Regions from separate parts of the Homo sapiens genome. Here all the other regions are reported to be linked to region 2. Evidence: microRNA targets listed by miRTarBase, many of them from high-throughput screens and not tested one by one. Region 2 holds a microRNA gene; each other region holds the end of a gene's coding sequence.

Evidence for each region. The annotated mature microRNA hsa-miR-548ap-5p reads AAAAGUAAUUGCGGUCUUU and lies in region 2 at 2,725-2,743, opposite strand. An mRNA with a match to its seed (bases 2 to 7 or 8) in the 3' UTR can be bound and repressed. Matches are read on the target gene's strand: a 7mer-m8 pairs with bases 2 to 8, a 7mer-A1 pairs with bases 2 to 7 and ends in A, and an 8mer does both.
Region 1: the mRNA of PLET1 is a reported target of hsa-miR-548ap-5p. Seed matches in the 3' UTR shown: 7mer-m8 at 739-745 and 7mer-A1 at 981-987.
Region 3: the mRNA of ANKEF1 is a reported target of hsa-miR-548ap-5p. Seed matches in the 3' UTR shown: 7mer-m8 at 1,263-1,269 and 8mer at 3,133-3,140.
Region 4: the mRNA of KLHL11 is a reported target of hsa-miR-548ap-5p. Seed matches in the 3' UTR shown: 7mer-m8 at 3,285-3,291.

The regions. Positions count from the first base shown.
Region 1 is chr11:112,245,038-112,249,159 of GRCh38, reverse strand. PLET1 (placenta expressed transcript 1) reads left to right here. Exons shown (of 4, transcript NM_001145024.1): 4 at 186-1,007. The coding sequence ends at 361. Among named protein-coding and RNA genes, the nearest start is that of PLET1, 14 kb to the left of the region's middle.
Region 2 is chr22:26,552,553-26,556,552 of GRCh38, forward strand. MIR548J (microRNA 548j) reads right to left here and starts at 2,771; the gene lies at 2,660-2,771. The region is part of intron 1 of TPST2 (tyrosylprotein sulfotransferase 2); the gene reads right to left. RefSeq lists an enhancer at 3,235-4,000.
Region 3 is chr20:10,055,132-10,059,253 of GRCh38, forward strand. ANKEF1 (ankyrin repeat and EF-hand domain containing 1) reads left to right here. Exons shown (of 11, transcript NM_022096.6): 11 at 371-3,172. The coding sequence ends at 529. The region is part of intron 3 of SNAP25-AS1 (SNAP25 antisense RNA 1); the gene reads right to left. Among named protein-coding and RNA genes, the nearest start is that of ANKEF1, 22 kb to the left of the region's middle.
Region 4 is chr17:41,850,085-41,854,206 of GRCh38, forward strand. It overlaps KLHL11 (kelch like family member 11), which reads right to left. Exons shown (of 2, transcript NM_018143.3): 2 at 1-4,122. The coding sequence ends at 3,656. Among named protein-coding and RNA genes, the nearest start is that of KLHL11, 13 kb to the right of the region's middle.

The DNA of each region.
Region 1 (4,122 bases), not on the chromosome of region 2:
AACCCCCAGCTTTTCCCCTCCTCTGAAAACACTTGGCACTGGAGAAGGGTTGATTGAATTTTGCTCATGAATCTGGCTCTAGCATTCCATCAGATTACCCTCCTTTCTCGAGTGCCCACCCACCACCCAACGGAGGTTCCGATGCCATTTTCCAGTGCCAACCGCACCCTCAACCACCTTTCCAGTGTCAACCTTAGCCTTAGCTGCCAAGATTCCCCAGAGCTCAGCCTTCAAGCCTTTCTTCATGATTACACCCAAGAGTATCAGACTCGAAGGCTTGGCCAACCAAGTCTTCAGCAGCCCCATCACAGAGGCCATTTATATCCTGCTTGCTTTTCTCACCAGCACACTTCTCTTCTAAAGGGAAGCCAGGGAAACAATTGTTTCTGCCTCCACTGCATCCTCCTACATTCAGTTCCAAGCTAGTGCTGGGAACCGAATGTGTGTAAATGAAGGCTTTACATTCTCAAATGTGCAACTTTGCTGCCACGGCTTCAGACCAAAACAAAGATCTGGAGGCACTCATTGGCAGGCTTGGGTCACATAGATGTTCATCTGGATCTTTCAGGACACATATTACACTTTTTGAAAATATTTAGAACTGGCCGGAACTTAGTCACCTAGGTTCTCCCTATTGGTTGAACAGGTTGGCAGCCAATTCCACAGCCAATCTCAACTTTTGTTCACTGCCAAATGATTCCCCTGCAACCTCTGAGTTTCTGTGGGAAGAATCCTTCCTTACTTTCAAGATGATCTCAGATTTCTAACCAAACCCATTCAGGTTACAAGGAACTTCTGTGACTCATGTGACTCAAGAAAGAAAGGAGAAAGGAGAAATAGCTCTGAGGCTGCTGGCAGCTTCCCATTTGTCCACACCAGTAGATTTTGAAGGGCAAGAGAACAGGAACGAACCATGTCTGAGAAGCCAATATAGAAAAAAACTATGTTATAAAAACATTTTTGTCACAACAAATAAATTATACTTTAAACAAGAATAATGAATGTGTTCCATTCAAATATAAGTCTCTAATGAGTAAGTTAAAACACAGAGAATGTTGTCTAATTGTATTATTTGTGTGTGGGTATTAAAGAACGAATCAAATGGTGAGTGTATGTGTGTTTTCAAGACCAGACTTTGGGGCAAAACTATCTCAATTTTCATTTCCCTCAAGTGAAAACTGGTCATTTTTCCCCTAATAGTAATTTCTGTTAAGAAATGGGCAAAATATATGTGTGTGTGTGTGTGTGTGTGTGTGTGTGTGTGTGTGTGTGTATATATACATATATATATACACACACACCTATATATACACACACATATATACACACGTATTTGTGTATATAGGCAGTGTTGTTATTCCCACAATGCCTCAGAGTCAGCCCTGCCCTTAACTGGCTGAAGGATGTGGGATAACAACACCTATATACACATATATTTGTGTATAGGGACCACTGCAACAGGGTCTTGCAGTGAAGGAGAGAGATTGGACTCAACACCCTATTTATAATATATATAACGCAATGTACAACCAGAAGGAAACATGGTATGTCCAGTAATAAGCTTGTAATAAGCAACAAAGTTTTCTTTTAATAATGATGCTAAATTCCAGGATGCCAACATTCTTTGCTGATCCCTAAAATTGTGCACCTCGTAAGAATTCCGACTCTATTCTTCCCTCCCCACTTAGGACACCTTGATGATATTTATCACTCCCTGGTGTTTGTAACTGAAATGTAATACGTGTCCTATGTAAATACACAATCTGCTTAGTCATATATGCTTGTTTAACTGCCAAAGAGATGGGTTGGCTACGATTCTTTTCAAGCATCCAAAAATACTCACCAGAAGGAACTAAACAACCAATTTTCCTAAGATTATCCATCTACTAATTTGGGGGCTCAGAGAAGTAGCATGCTCCTAATCTCTTCTAAGATGCTGACTCCTAGGTTGACTCCACACCAGCTCTGATTCAAGAACAACAGGTGGCTCCCCAAAAAGGCTGAGCAATTTTATAGGATGAGAAAAAGCCTACGAATGATCATTTACTAAGCATTTACCTTATGCTTCATTAATGTTGCTATGAAAGTACTATAAGATCCTAATTTTTGTATTCCAAAAGTTCCCGCTTTTGTTAACATTTCCACCCTCTCTCCTCAAAAATATATATAAAAGGAATTTTACCACAGTGTAATCCATAAAAACCACACCTTTCTGATCTAGGTAATGGCTATCCCACATTGCTTCAGGCTAATTTATCAATAAATACTTATTGAGCACCATGCTGCCTTTCTTTTGGATATGTACCTAGTGGTAGAATTGCTGGAGCACATGGTAGTTCTATTTTCAGTTTTTTGACAAACCTCCATACTGTTCTCCGTAGTGGCTATACTAATTCACATTCCCACCAACAGTGTATGAGGATTCCCCTTTCTCCACATCCTTTCCAGCATCTGTTAGTGCCTGTCTTTTTGATTCAAGCCATTTTAACTGGGGTGAGATGATATCACATTATGATATTGATTTGCATGTCTCTGATGATTAGTGATACTGAACATTTTTTCTTACACCTGTTGGCAATTCGTATGTCTCCTTTTGAGAAATGTCTGTTCAAATTTTTTGCCCATTACTAAATTGGATTTTTTTTTTACTATTGAGTTGTTTAAGCTCCTTATGTATTCTTATTATTGATCCCTTATCAGGTGAATAGTTTGCAAATATTTTCTCCCATTCTCCCATTCTGTGGATTGTCTATTCACTTTGTTGACTGTTTCCTTTGCTGTACAGAAACTTTTTAGCTTGATGTAATCCCAATTGTCTATTTTTGCTTTGGTTGCCTGTGCTTCTGAGGTCTTATACAAGAAATCTTTGCCCAGACCAACATCTCAAAGTATTTGCCCAATGCTTTCTCCTAGGAGTTTCACAGTTTCAGGTGTTAGGTTCAACTCTTTAATCCATTTTGATTTGATATTTTTGTATAGTGAGAGATGGGGGTCTAGTTTCATTCTTCTGCATAGTTATGCTGTTTTCTCAGCACCATTTTTTTTGAAAAGACTGGACTTTTCCCATTCTAAGTTTTTGGTGCTTTTGTCAAAGATGAGTTGGTTATAAATGCATGAATTTATAACTGGGTTCTCTATTCTGTTCCACTGGTCTATGTGTCTGCTTTTATGCCAGTACCACGCTGTTTTGGTTACTATGCTTTTGTAATAAGTTTTGAAGTCCGGTATTGTGATCCCTCCAGCTTTGTTTTTTGGTTTGGGGGTTTTTGTGTTTCAGGGTATGTTTGTGTGTGTGGTGTGTGTGTGTGTGTGAAGGGTCTCACTCTGTTTTGTGTGTGTGTGTGTGTGTGTGTGTGTGTGTGTGTGTGAAGGGTCTCACTCTGTTGCCCAGGCTGGAGTGCAGTGGTGCACTCATAGCTCACTGCAGGCTCGAACTCCTGGCCTCATGCAGTTCTCCCATTTTGGCCTCCCAAAGTGCTGAGATTACAGGTATAAGCCACTATGCCCAACCCAGCTTTGTTCTTTATGCTCAGGATTGCTTTGCCTATTCAGGGTCTTTTGTGGTTCTATATAAATGTTAGGTTTGTTTTTTTTTTTTCTCTTTTTGTGAAGAATGTCATCGGTATTTTGATAGGGATTGCATTGAATCTGTAAGTAGTTTGTAGTAGTATTGTCATTTTAACAATATTATTCTTCCAATCCATGAGCATGGAATATATTTCCACTTTTTGGTGTCCTCTTCTGTTTCTTTCATCAGAATTTTATTTCCTTGTACAGAACTTTTATTTCTTTGGTTAGATTGATTCCTAGGTATTTTATATTTTTTGCAGCTATTGTAAATGGGATTACTTTCTTGATTTTTCAGATTGTTCACTGTTGGCACATATAAATGCTACTGATTTTTGTATGTTGATTTTGTAACCTGCAACTTTACTGAATTTGTTTTATGTTCTATCAGTTTTTTGGTGGAGTTTTTAGGTCTTTCTAAGTAATAAGATCATGTCCTCTTCAAACAAGGTTAACTTGACTTCTTCCTTTACAATTTGGATGCCCTTTTATTCTTTCTTTGCCTAGTTGCTCTGACCAGGACTTCCAGTATCATGTTGAATAAAAGTGGTAAAA
Region 2 (4,000 bases):
TAGGCAAGCTTCTGTGAAGTCATAAAACCCATGTTTTTGGCTCTGTGGGCCACAAGAGCTCCACTGCGAGTTTGCAACTGTAATGCAAACAACCAAGATGACACATACATGAAGGCAAGTGGCTGCGTTTCCATAAGACTAGTTACGAAAACAGGCGGTCAGCTAGATTTGTCCCGTGGGCATAGTTTGCCAACCCCCTGGTCTATATCACGAAAAGACACTATCAGCCAGGAGCAGTGGTTCACGCCTATAATCCCAGCACTTTGGGAGGCCAAGGCAGGAGGATCACCTGAGGTCAGGAGTTCGAGACCAGCCTGGCCAACATGGTGATACCCCATCTCTACTAAAAATACAAAAATTAGCCGCGCATGGTGGCGGGCGCCTGTAGTCCCAGCTACTCGAGAGCCTGAGGCAGGAGAACTGCTTGAACCCGGGAGGCGGAGGTTGCAGTGAGCTGAGATTGTGCCATTGTACTCCAGCCTGGGTGACAACAGCGAAACTCCATCTCAAAAAAAAAAAAAAAAAAAAAAAAAAGACACTATCAGCAGCACCTGCCCTCAGTGCAACCTGGGCAAACTCACAAAGCACAAATACAGTGAGCCGAGGTGGAAGCCAGTTTTGGTTCTGGGACTTTTCTCAGTAGGGACTGTGGGAGGACCCAGGTGGCCAGCCTTTGGTAAGAGAAAAATGTACAATTCGGGAAAACAAATAGTTGATTGAAAAGAAAAAGAAGTGCACACTCATGCATAGGGAATCATCCAGCATCCTGTCTGTTGCCACGTAAGGACTAGCAGAGAGGCTTGTGCATGCCTGGCAGTTTTTTTTTTTTTTTTTAAAGAGACAGGGTCTCCTTCTGTCTCAAAGGCTGGAGTGCAGTGGAGTGATCACTGTTCACTGCAGCCTTGAAACTCCTGGTCTCAAATGATCTGTCTGCCCCAGCCTGCCAAGTAGCTGGGACTACAGGCAAGTGCCACCATGCCCAGTTAATTTTTTATTTTTGTGGAGACGGGGTCTCACTATGTTGCCCAGGCCAGTCTGAGTTTAATCCTCCCACCTCAGCCTCCCAAAGTGCTAGGATTATAGGCATGAGCTACTGCACCTGGCTGGCAGTTTTATATACAGTCGCCCCTCGGTATCATAAGGGACTGATTACAGAATATCCCTCGAATACCAGTATACATCAAGTCCCTTATATAAAATGATGTAATATTTGCATAAAACCTACACGTATCCTCCCATATACTTTAAATCAGTGCTAGATCAATTATACTACCTAATACAATCTAAATGCTATGTAGGTAGTTGTTACACTGTATTGTTTAGAGAACAATCACAGGACAAAAAAGCTCTGTTCATGTTCAGTACAGATGCAACCACCCATTTTTTCCCGAATATTTTTGATCCACTGTCGGCTGAATCCCCGCATGCAGAACCCAAGAAGACGGACAGCCAACAATATATTTTGACCCTCATGACAGGCTTGGAGGGTAGGCACTATTATTATTAGCCACGTTTTACAGAAGGGGAAACTGAGGCTTAGAGAGGTGAAGTGCTTTGTTGGAGATCACACAGATGATAAGTGGCTGAGTTTGATCTGGAACTCAGGTCTATCTGATGCCGGAACCCAAGCTCTTAACTACCTCTTCCAAATCTCGACCCCACCCCATACACAGATGGGGAAGCTATGTGCCCCAGGTCAGACAGCTGCTCAGAGTAGTGCCCGGCTCAGACTCCTGGACCATCTCCCAGTCTTGCCCCTGACACCTGGCACAGCCCCTGCTCAGGACTTCCTGCCCAGAAACACAGAGGGCCCCTGCCTGGTAAACAAGGCAAACAGGAAAGGGCCAGCGTGATCTTGTAGGGACCAGTGCTTCCTGAGCCCTCACCCCCACCCACCATGGGATCCCGTCTCTACTCCTCTGTCCAGAAGCTGTCAGAGGTAGGGGACTGAGCATAGGGGCAGGAATCCTCCACACCTGGCTGATTCCTAGCAATGCAGCCCTGGGTTGGGGGTCAGTGGGGAGGTGTTATCTAACTACTTTGTGCCTCACTTTCCTCATCTGTGAAATGGGGAGGCCATTAACACTTGTGAAGACTAAATAAATAAACTTGCAGTGGCTCATGCCTGTAATCCCAGCACTTTGGGAGGCCAAGGTGGGCGGATCACCTGGGGTCAGGAGTTCAAGACCAGCATGGCCAACATGGTGAAACCCCGTCTCTGCCAAAAATACAGAAATTAGCCAGGCGTGGTGGTGAATGCCTGTAATCCCAGCTACTTGGGAGGCTGAAGCACAAGAATTGCTTGAACCCAGGAGGAGGAGGTTGCAGTGAGCCAAGATGGCGCCACTGCACTCCAGCCTGGGTGACACAGCAAGACTCTGTCTCACAATAAATAAACTCACATAAAGCACTCAGAACAGAGCTTTGTTACTACCTGACTGTTATTCCTTCCCTTTAGGGTAGTGGTTAAACTTTGGTGTGCTTCTGAATAGCCCAAAACTTTAAAAGGCAGATTTCCTGGGGCCTGCCCTCAAATATTCTGATTTGGAAGAGGCAAGGTGGAGCTGAGGGAATTTGCATTTTAACGTGGAGCTGAGGGAATTTGCATTTTAACAAGCGCTGCCCCTTGCTCCCTCTCTGTGAAACACCGCTTAAGGCACTGAACTCAGCGTTCTAGTAGGCTGGTGCAAAAGTAATGCAGTTTTTGCCACTGAAAGTAATACCAAAGACCGCAATTACTTTTGCACCAGCTAACTATTCACTGGCTGCCCACCTGGGCCAGGCTCAGGAATGCAATCATCGTGGAGTGCAGGGGTCAGGAGTGTAGACCTAAAGTTGGACAGACCCAGGCGATCTTGGTGTGGCCACTCACCAGTGGCCTTGAGCCAGTGACTTCTTGTCTCTGAGCCTCACTCACCTGTTATAACGTTTAACATTTCCAAAATAAGTCTGAAAACGGCACCTACCTTGTGGAGCTGTTGTGAAGCTGGCAAAGAGTGTGAGCTCAGAGGCATCAGCTACAATTCTGTACCATTATTTATTAGGACGGACACAGTCCTGCCCATAATGAGTGTCACGGCCATTGAGCCGGCAGACAATCAACCCAGTGGGATGGATGCCCAGACAGACTGGGGTGTGCAGGAGGCGGTGGGAACACGTTCAGGGCACGCTGGAGCACCCAGTGTCACGTCCTGCCCAGAAGACCTAATAACACCCAACAGACAGGCACCACAACAAAGTGGCATCGACTCCCACTGCAGGCCTCCCACGGCAACCCTGTGGGGGAGACAGCCCCTCTCTGGCTGGATCATGAATAAGAAATCCAGAGGCGGAATGGGCTGCTCACACTCTGCTCACACTCACACAGCAGGTGCAGGGCAGCATGAGGACTCAAACCCAGGTCTAATGGGTTCTTCCACCATTTTGTGCCATGGATCTCTTCAACCATCTGGTGAAATCTATGGGCCCCTTCCCAGAATAATGCTTTTAAATGGAATACAATAAAATATACAGGATGAAAAGGAAACCAACATAGTAAACTTTGGCTAAGAATGTGATTACAAAAATTGCTGTGAAATATTATCTGTAACCTATCTGCTCCTTTATTAAAGCAATCAATAACAAGATCTAGTAGCAGACAGAATAATCACTGTCATCTGCAAGCAGACACATCTGTGGCACCTAAAATGTGATATAAAAATATGGGCCAGGAGCAGTGGCTCATGTCTATAATCCCAGCACCTTGGGAGGCCGAGGTGGGCGGATCACCTGAGGTCAGGAGTTCAAGACCAGCCTGGCCAACATGGTGAAACCCCGTCTCTACTAAAATACAAAAAAATTAGCCAGGCGTGGTGGCAGCCACCTGTAATCCCAGCTACTTGGGAGGCTGAAGCAGGTGAATCACTTGAATCTGGGAGGCAGAGGTTGCAGTGAGCCGAGATCGCGTCATTGCACCCTAGCCTGGGCGACAAGAGCGAAACTCCATCTCAAAAAAAAAGTG
Region 3 (4,122 bases), not on the chromosome of region 2:
TCTACATAAGACATATAGGTAGTAAACCTAGATGATCTTCTAATTCCTTTGCTTCCCTGTTTTGGCATCCTAAAAAACGCACAGCAGCTGGTCTGAGCATAACTGGCCAGAGAAGTAACTGAATAATATTTCCGACATTATTTGTCTAGACAGTCATCATCAAAAACAGTGATGCTCGTGCAACCACTAGTGTCATATGAGAGGGGGGGAAGAAGTTAAAACACATCTAAAAGTAAATTTAATAGTTTTAAGTTAAAACTATAAACAAATTTTTAAGTTAAAACTGTGTATTGAAAATTGTCTGGATATTAGCATATTTACTGGCTGTCATACTCATACCTGCTGGGGTATGGCTATTTTTCTTTTTAAGATTTGGAGTCCTGAAGCCACAACAGCAGAGCTGATCAGGAAGAGGGAACTACGGCGAGAGAGGTTTACACATGAGGTGGACTTCGACGATTTTATGATGCCTTTTCAGAAGAACATCACAGAGAAAGCTCGAGCACTGGAAGCTGCCTTGAAGACCTAAGTCATAGCAGTTATTTCTTGGGGTAAATGCTTTGAGGCCCAGGGACCAATCTTTGGAGAAAGTAGATATTTCCATCAAAGCCAAAGCAATCCATACACCAAGAACTTGTTACCAAGAATTTCTTTTTGCTTTAACAACTATAAATATTCTTAGCTGTCTAGAGAAAAGATGTATGTTATTTTGAAATGAATGGTATGTCATTCTGGATAAATCCCCAAGCCCCTTTATGAATGTAGTGAAATACATGGCATGTGGGTTATAAACGTTGCTGTCAAAAGATTTACCAGGTCTACACCATTATGCTTATTATTTTTTTAATTATCCTTTTTATTTATTAAATAGAGACAGAGTCTCACTATATTGCCCCAGCTGGTCTCGAACTCTTGAGCTCAGGCAGTCCTCCCAACTTGGCCGTCGAAAGTGCTGGGATTATAGGCATGAGCTACTGTGCCCAGCCTGCTTATTGAAGATACATTTCTAGTGGAAATTGATGAAACAATTTAGGTTTTGGAAAAAGAAGTAATATTTAATCTTTTAAGGAAGGAGTTTATTTCTCACATGCCATTATAAACTATGTGTATTAGATACCTTGGGTTGAATACACTTTTAACAGCCCTAGATCGATAGCCCTAGCCCTAGATAGATAGCCCTAGCCCTAGATAGATAGCTATTAGGTTGGTGCAAAAGTAATTGTGGTTTTTGCCATAACCTTTAATTGCAGCAAAAACCGCAATTACTTTTGCTCCAACCTGACAGCTAGGTATCTAGCTAGCTAGAAAGGCAGATAGACAGATATATAGATGATAGATAGATAGATGATAGATAGATAGATAGATGATAGATAGATAGATAGATAGATAGATAGATAGATAGATAGAGATTTATTGCAAATAATTGGTTTACATAATTTTGGGCCCCAGATGGTTAAGTGCTAAATTTGTAGGGTAGGCTATCAGGAAGTGCAGGCTGGAAACATGCAGGAGCTGTCCCTGAAGTCCACAAGTGGAATTTCTTCTTCATCATGGAAACCTCAGTTTTGTTCATACACCTAAATACTTCAGTATGTCTTTCCTAAAATAAAAGGCATCCATTTACCTAACCAGATTACGATTGTGAAAATTTCAACTGTTGTTAAAGCGACTGATGGGATCAGTTTCACCTAGATTATCTAAAGCAGTCTCCTTTACATAAAGTCAATGAATTGTAAATATTGGTTGCATGTACACAATTCCTTCACCACAACACCTAAGATTAGTATTTGATTGAGTTACTGGGTGCTACAACCTAGCCAAGTTGAGTCATAAAACTGACCATCTCTGGAGGTGTACTCTGCAGTAAAAAGCTAGCTGAGGCATTATTCACACCAAGAAATGCAGTGGGTACCGAACAGGAGCTCCAAAAATATCCAACGTCTCATTGACAGAAAGAAGCCACTTTAGAATCTGCCTTACCAGAAGGCACCAATTGCAGATTACAGCTCTGTCAGTCACGTATGGATTAAACCCCTTTCCTCTAACCTCCTCCCTCTCTTTCCAACCTTGGAGGGACCTTCCACAGGAGCCAGTTAGGGAGGAGAAGGGAAGAGAGAGAATGAAGCAGGTAACCAGGCCCACCCCTCTGGAGGAGACAGACCTGAACAGGGGTTGCTTACAAGCATTGCATTTGGATCCCAAGATTTGCTATTACAACTAAATTTTGTCTGTTTTGTAAGGTTTTGGTTGGTTTTTTTGTTCTCTCTTTTCTTTTTGTTTTGACATAATTTCATATTTATGGAAAAGTTGCAATAATTTGACAAAGAATTCTTATATGCCCTTTACCCAGATTACCTAAATGTTAACCACTTACCACATTTGCTCTATCTCTTTCTCCCTCTACATATATGCATATGTATGTTTAATTTTTGTCCCCGAACTATCTGTGTGTCCGTTGAAGACATGATGAAGACATGATGTTCTTCACATGATGTTTTCATATTTGTGTGTCAGTTGAAGACATGATGTTTTAAATATTTCATTGTGTATTTCCTAAAATCACGATGTTCTTTTGCATAACAATATTACCATTGGCAAACTAAGGAAATTAACACTTAAGTGAACTATTTAATCTATAGACCTTATTCAGATTTTGCTATTTATCCCAATAATTTCCTTTGTACTCCCAGGTCATGAAATACATTCGCTTGCCCCATCTCTTTAGTCTCTTTTAGTTTAGAACAACCTGTATTTCTTGTTTGTTTGTTTGTTTGTTTGTTTATGACAGTATATAAGAAGAACACAAGCCACTTTTATCTTGTAAAATGTCTCTCAACTTTGGTTTGTCTTAAATGTCTTCAAGAATAGATTCAGGTGATGCTTTTGGGGCAGCAGTGCTACAGATGTCATTGCACCCTTCTCAGTACATCATATCAGGAGGCACATGATGTTGATACCTGATATAAACTTTAACTGCATTTGCAGTTGAGAGAAATGTAAATAAAAGTAAAGCTGCAGTAATAAATCATAACTGCATAAAATTAACTGTAGTACATACTGTACAACTGTAATAATTTCATAGCCACCTCCTGTTGCTATTGTGTTGAGTTCAATTGTTGTCTTTTCTCAAGCTTACTTTATTGCACAAATACAGTATTTATAACATACAAAATACGTGTTAATTGATTATGCTATGGGTAAGGCTTTTGGTCAACAGTAAGTTATTAGTATCTAAGTTTTTTGGGAGGCAAAACTTATACATGGATTTTTTTATTGTAAGGAGAGTTGGTGCCGGTAACTCTCTAGTAGTTTTCCTTGTACTTAATGAATATCTGATAGATAGATACTTTGAAACTATGGAAATTTCCTTCTACTTTCATACTTTCACCTACTAATTTTAGCATCCATGGATGATTCTCGCCTAAAATAATTATTACAGTGACAGTTGCCATAAAATAATTTCTACATTTTATCATTCTTTCCATTTCTTACTTGGCCTTCTGCTGTTGGGCAGAGCTTTCTTTTCTTCCTTATTAATTTATGTACTCAAATCAGTACAGACTCATGCATTCCCTTTTTATTTAATGCGAATTATATATGTGTGGGGACCAACTCAGAACTCCAGAGTTGGTATAAAGATTATTTTAAGCCAAAGACATTTGAGATTTAACATACCATATGCAGGGGAAAAAAAAGTCTTCTCAGACCTTTGCTTATCTGACTACAAGCAGTAACTTCTAGGAAATAAGGCTGCCATAAATTCCTCTTCAGGTTTGATCTACTTCTAGAACACAAGTAATCCTACCCCAAATCCCTTCTCCAGAAGTGTTGTATGGCCCCGAAGGAAATTTAAGGACCATTTATACCTGTATAGATAAACATTATCACGTACTTTTTTATCTCCTGTTTGTTCACCTGAAAACTCATGTATCTTTGTAAAAAGTCATTGTGTTTACATAAATGTCTTCTCCCCCTCCCCTTTGCTTATCAAGATGATTATAAGCCACCGATTTTAACTATCCCTTTCAGTTACTCATCACTGAGTTCTCCCAAGTGTATATGCCTTGCATGCATAAACTTGTTTTCTCCTGTTAAAATGCCTTTTGTCAGTTTAATTCACAG
Region 4 (4,122 bases), not on the chromosome of region 2:
TGATCCTTGTACTTAGAACCTTTCCAAATACTCTGGGAAGTTATTTCCAGTTTAGAATTTCAGAATGTCAGCCTTGAACAGATTTAAGCAAATCTGGTTTCTTTCCTTATTAACAAGTTAGTTAGGATATTTCAGAAACACAAGTTATTGATGTGAAATTACACATGTGAATTCAAAAATAAAAATTAGAAAATCAGGAAAACCTGCACACATCATCATGCAATGAAGGACTTACCCCTTCTTTTCAGCCATGGCCTAGGCTGCCTGCTAAGTTAAAAAACAACAGTTTCAATCAAGGTTTTAAAACCAGATTATGCCTAAATCTTATGAGTTATAATTTCTGTCACATGATGTGAAAAAAACACAACCCCACAAATGACTTGGTAATAATTATCTCAGAAGACAACTCTGAGAACAAAAAACAAAAAACACATCACACCCTTCCAGTTAAAAACTATTATCGTAGTGAGATACTAAATTATTTAAATACAATCAAGAAAACGAAGTTTGCTAGCACAGTCTGTTGGAGAGAAATGAGAACTTCATTTAGTGAGCTTCATTTAATGATTCTGTCTTACTTGCATAGACCTATCACAGCTAAGAATTAGTGCTTCTCAGAATCCAAATGGCTTTTACTAAAATAACTACAAAGAAATAGAAATTGAGAAAAAGGTAGTGGTGGGATGGGACAATATAATAATATATCCTTATATGTAGAAATAGACTTGCAGTTTCTCACGCCCACTCCAGTCTAAATTAAATGGATTTAAAGTTGATTTTCAACACATTTATTAAAAACTTTTCACCTAGGCAGGGATACTAATTTAAAAATTTCAAGTTCTTAGTATAGAGCCCAAGACCTACAACTTGCAGCAAATAGCCAAAATTTCTGGTTGTGCTTTTCTCTTTTGGTATTTGATCACTAACAAGAAGATTAACTATAATGGACTAGGGAAAAAAAAAATCACTGCACTTGGAATTTGACTTCTAGAATGGTATGACAAAATGTCTAAGAAGGTAAAGACAGTTCTTAAGAAACAGGATAAATCATTGGACAGGTGGCTCTTTGGGAGGCCAAGGTGGGAGGATTGCTTGAGGAAAGGAGCTTGAGACCAGCCTGGCCAATAAGGTGAGACCTCACATCTTAAAAAACCAAAACAACAACAAAAACAAGAAAACCACATTGTAAACTGTTAGGAATCCTTTATATTAACTGAGCATTAAGAGTAAATTTGAGGGCTGGGCATGGTGGCTCATGCCTGTAATCCCAGCGCTTTGAGAGGCTGAGGTGGGCGGATCACGAGGTCAGGAGTTCGAGACCAGCCTAACCAACATGGTGAAACCCCATCTCTATTAAAAATACAAAAATTAGCCGGGCGTGGTGGTACACACCTGCAATCCCAGCTACTCAGCAGGCTGAGGCAGGAGAATCACATGAACCCGGGAGGTGGAGGTTGCAGTGAGCTGAGACTGCGCAACTGCACTCCAGCCAGGGCGACAAAGCGTGACTGTTTCAAAAAAAAAAAAAAAAGTTATTTTGAGGCCGGGCGTGGTGGCTCACACCTAATCCTAGCACCCTGGGAGGCTGATACGGGTGGATCTCCTGAGCCCAGGAGTTGGAGACCAGCCTCGGCAACATGGAGAAACCCCATCTCTACCAAAAATACAAAAAAAAAATTAGCTGGGCGTGGTGGCGCGTGCCCATAGTCCCAGCTACTCCGTATGCTGAGGTGGCAGGATGGCTTGCATCCAGGAGGTGGAGGTTGTAGTGAGCCGAGATCATACCACTGTACTCCAACCTGGGTGACAAAGTGGGACCCCATCCCCTGGCCCAAAAAAAAAAAAAAGTCAATTTGAGTGCTAACTTTTATAAAGCTCAGGAGACATAAGATAATTCGAATAACGTATAAAACTAAATAAAAGATAGCTTCAGTGATCTTTTTAATTTTTATTTGAGACACCGTCTCTCTGTCACCCAAGGTAGAGTGGCATGATCACAGCTCATTTCAGCCTCAACCTTCCCAGGCTCTGGTGATCCTCCCACCTTGGCTTCAAGTAGGAAGGACTACAGGCACGTGCCAGCTACCACACTCAGCTAATTTTTCTACTTTTTGTAGAGACAGGATCTTGCTATGTTTCCCAGGCTGGTCTTGAACTCTTGGGCTCAAAATCTGCCCACCTCAGCCTCCTCCAAAGTGTTGGGATTACAGTCATGAGCCACCGTGCCCAGCCCATAAACCTTTAAAAGCCAAAATTATGTACCCAAATTTGGTATCCTAGGCTCAGGCAAAGTTTGAAAGTGTGGGGCAACTGGATAAAATATAACAATCAGAAATAATAAGGCTTCTCTTTAGCAACATTTCTCTAAATTGTGACTTCCTTCCCATTTTGGAAAAAAACAGTTTCTTGTAGAAAAGAATAATGGACTGGGCACGGTGGCTCATGCCTGTAATCCCAGCACTTTGGGAGGCTGAGGCGGGCGTATCACCTGAGGTCAGGAGTTCAAGACCAGCCTGGTCAACATGGTGAAACCCTGTCTCTACTAAAAGCACAAAAATTAGCCAGGCGTGATGGTGGGTACCTGTAATCCCAGCTACTCGGGATGCTGAGGCAAGAGAATCACTCGAACCTGGCAGGCAGAGGTTGCAGTGAGCCGAGATTGCACCACTGCACTCCAGCCTGGGCAACATGAGCAAAAAAAAAAAAAAAAAGAGAAAAGGAATAATGAAGATTCTATATAATATGCATTAGAGCAAAAATTAAAATGGAAGGCATTGAGTGTCGATTGTCATAGGCATTATTTACACTCATTAACATATCCTCAAATAATCCTGCAACTCCTGAAAAAAATGTTGAAAAAATTTTAAATGCCTTTGATTTCCCAGTCTACACTAATACTTTTCTTCTTAGAGAAACAAAGTTCACACATGTAACTTGCTCTGTATTTAGTCAATTAGCTAAAGATCTATACTTTTGCCAACTACCGTCACCTCAGATTGAAGGCTTAAAGTCTATAAACAGCTGCTAATGAAAAATATTCAAAAAATGCATGAGCCAGTAAAAAATTTCTCATCAGTCACATCTTCTAGGAAGGAAACTGGCATTTCTAGATAAACATAAGAAAATATCAATGCAAACATTCTCAAATTATCTTGCTGAAATATTGAGTGTTTTCATTCAAATTTCAGTCTCACTATTGCACATGCCTCCTGCAGATGAGGGCTCAATGCAGAAGTCAGATCTTGCCAAAACCAATCATTTAATAAAAAATGAAAAAGAATATCAAAGTAAATGTGCAAATAAAATTGGTGCTTAAAGCATGTTCAAAACGTAAGTCCTCAAGACAAAGGAGTCATAACTCGTTGGCAGGAAAACAGCTAAGCAACTACACCTGATTTTTCCACTTGTCCTTAATAAGATCTTATTTAGCTAGCACAAACAAACAAACCAAAGACAAAAATTGCAAGCTAACAAAATGACCATGTATTGAACTGAGTCTCCCATTCTTTAGTTTTTAACTCTATTTCCTTTATATGGGGTAATAATCAGTTCATGTAGAAAATAAGTTATCGACATACTTTTTTAAATAACAGCCTGGGTATCTTCAGCTTCACGAAACGGGTGTAACAGTTTTAATCGGCACGCTTGAGAGAACCTAGCATTCAATCTGAGAGCTTGGCACTCGCCTCATGTTCAGGGCGTGACGATGTATCTCTTGCATCTGTCTGATGCGGTCCTTCTGCCACATCAGGTTTTGAGGCATAGGGTATCTCTGTGTGCCATGCAAGTACCGGTATGGGATCCTCACGTGACAAGCAGTGGCTCTACAACGAGGTTGTGGCATAGGAGGAAGAAGCATCCACCTCTTCCTCTCCGCACAATATCGGTAGGCTTCTTTCCGATACTGTTTATCAATATCATCACTGTTTTTCCAGCCTCCTATAATGAAGACATCATCTTTGTAATAGCAAATGGCTGCTCCTTCGATGCTTAGGACTTCTGGAGGCAAGCTTTCAAGGATCTCATCAGACACTTGGCTGGCAATTTTTCTTACTGCCTCTTCGTTTTCTAAACAATAACTCTTGGGACAACATGATGCTGTCTGATAAAAGTTTGAATTGA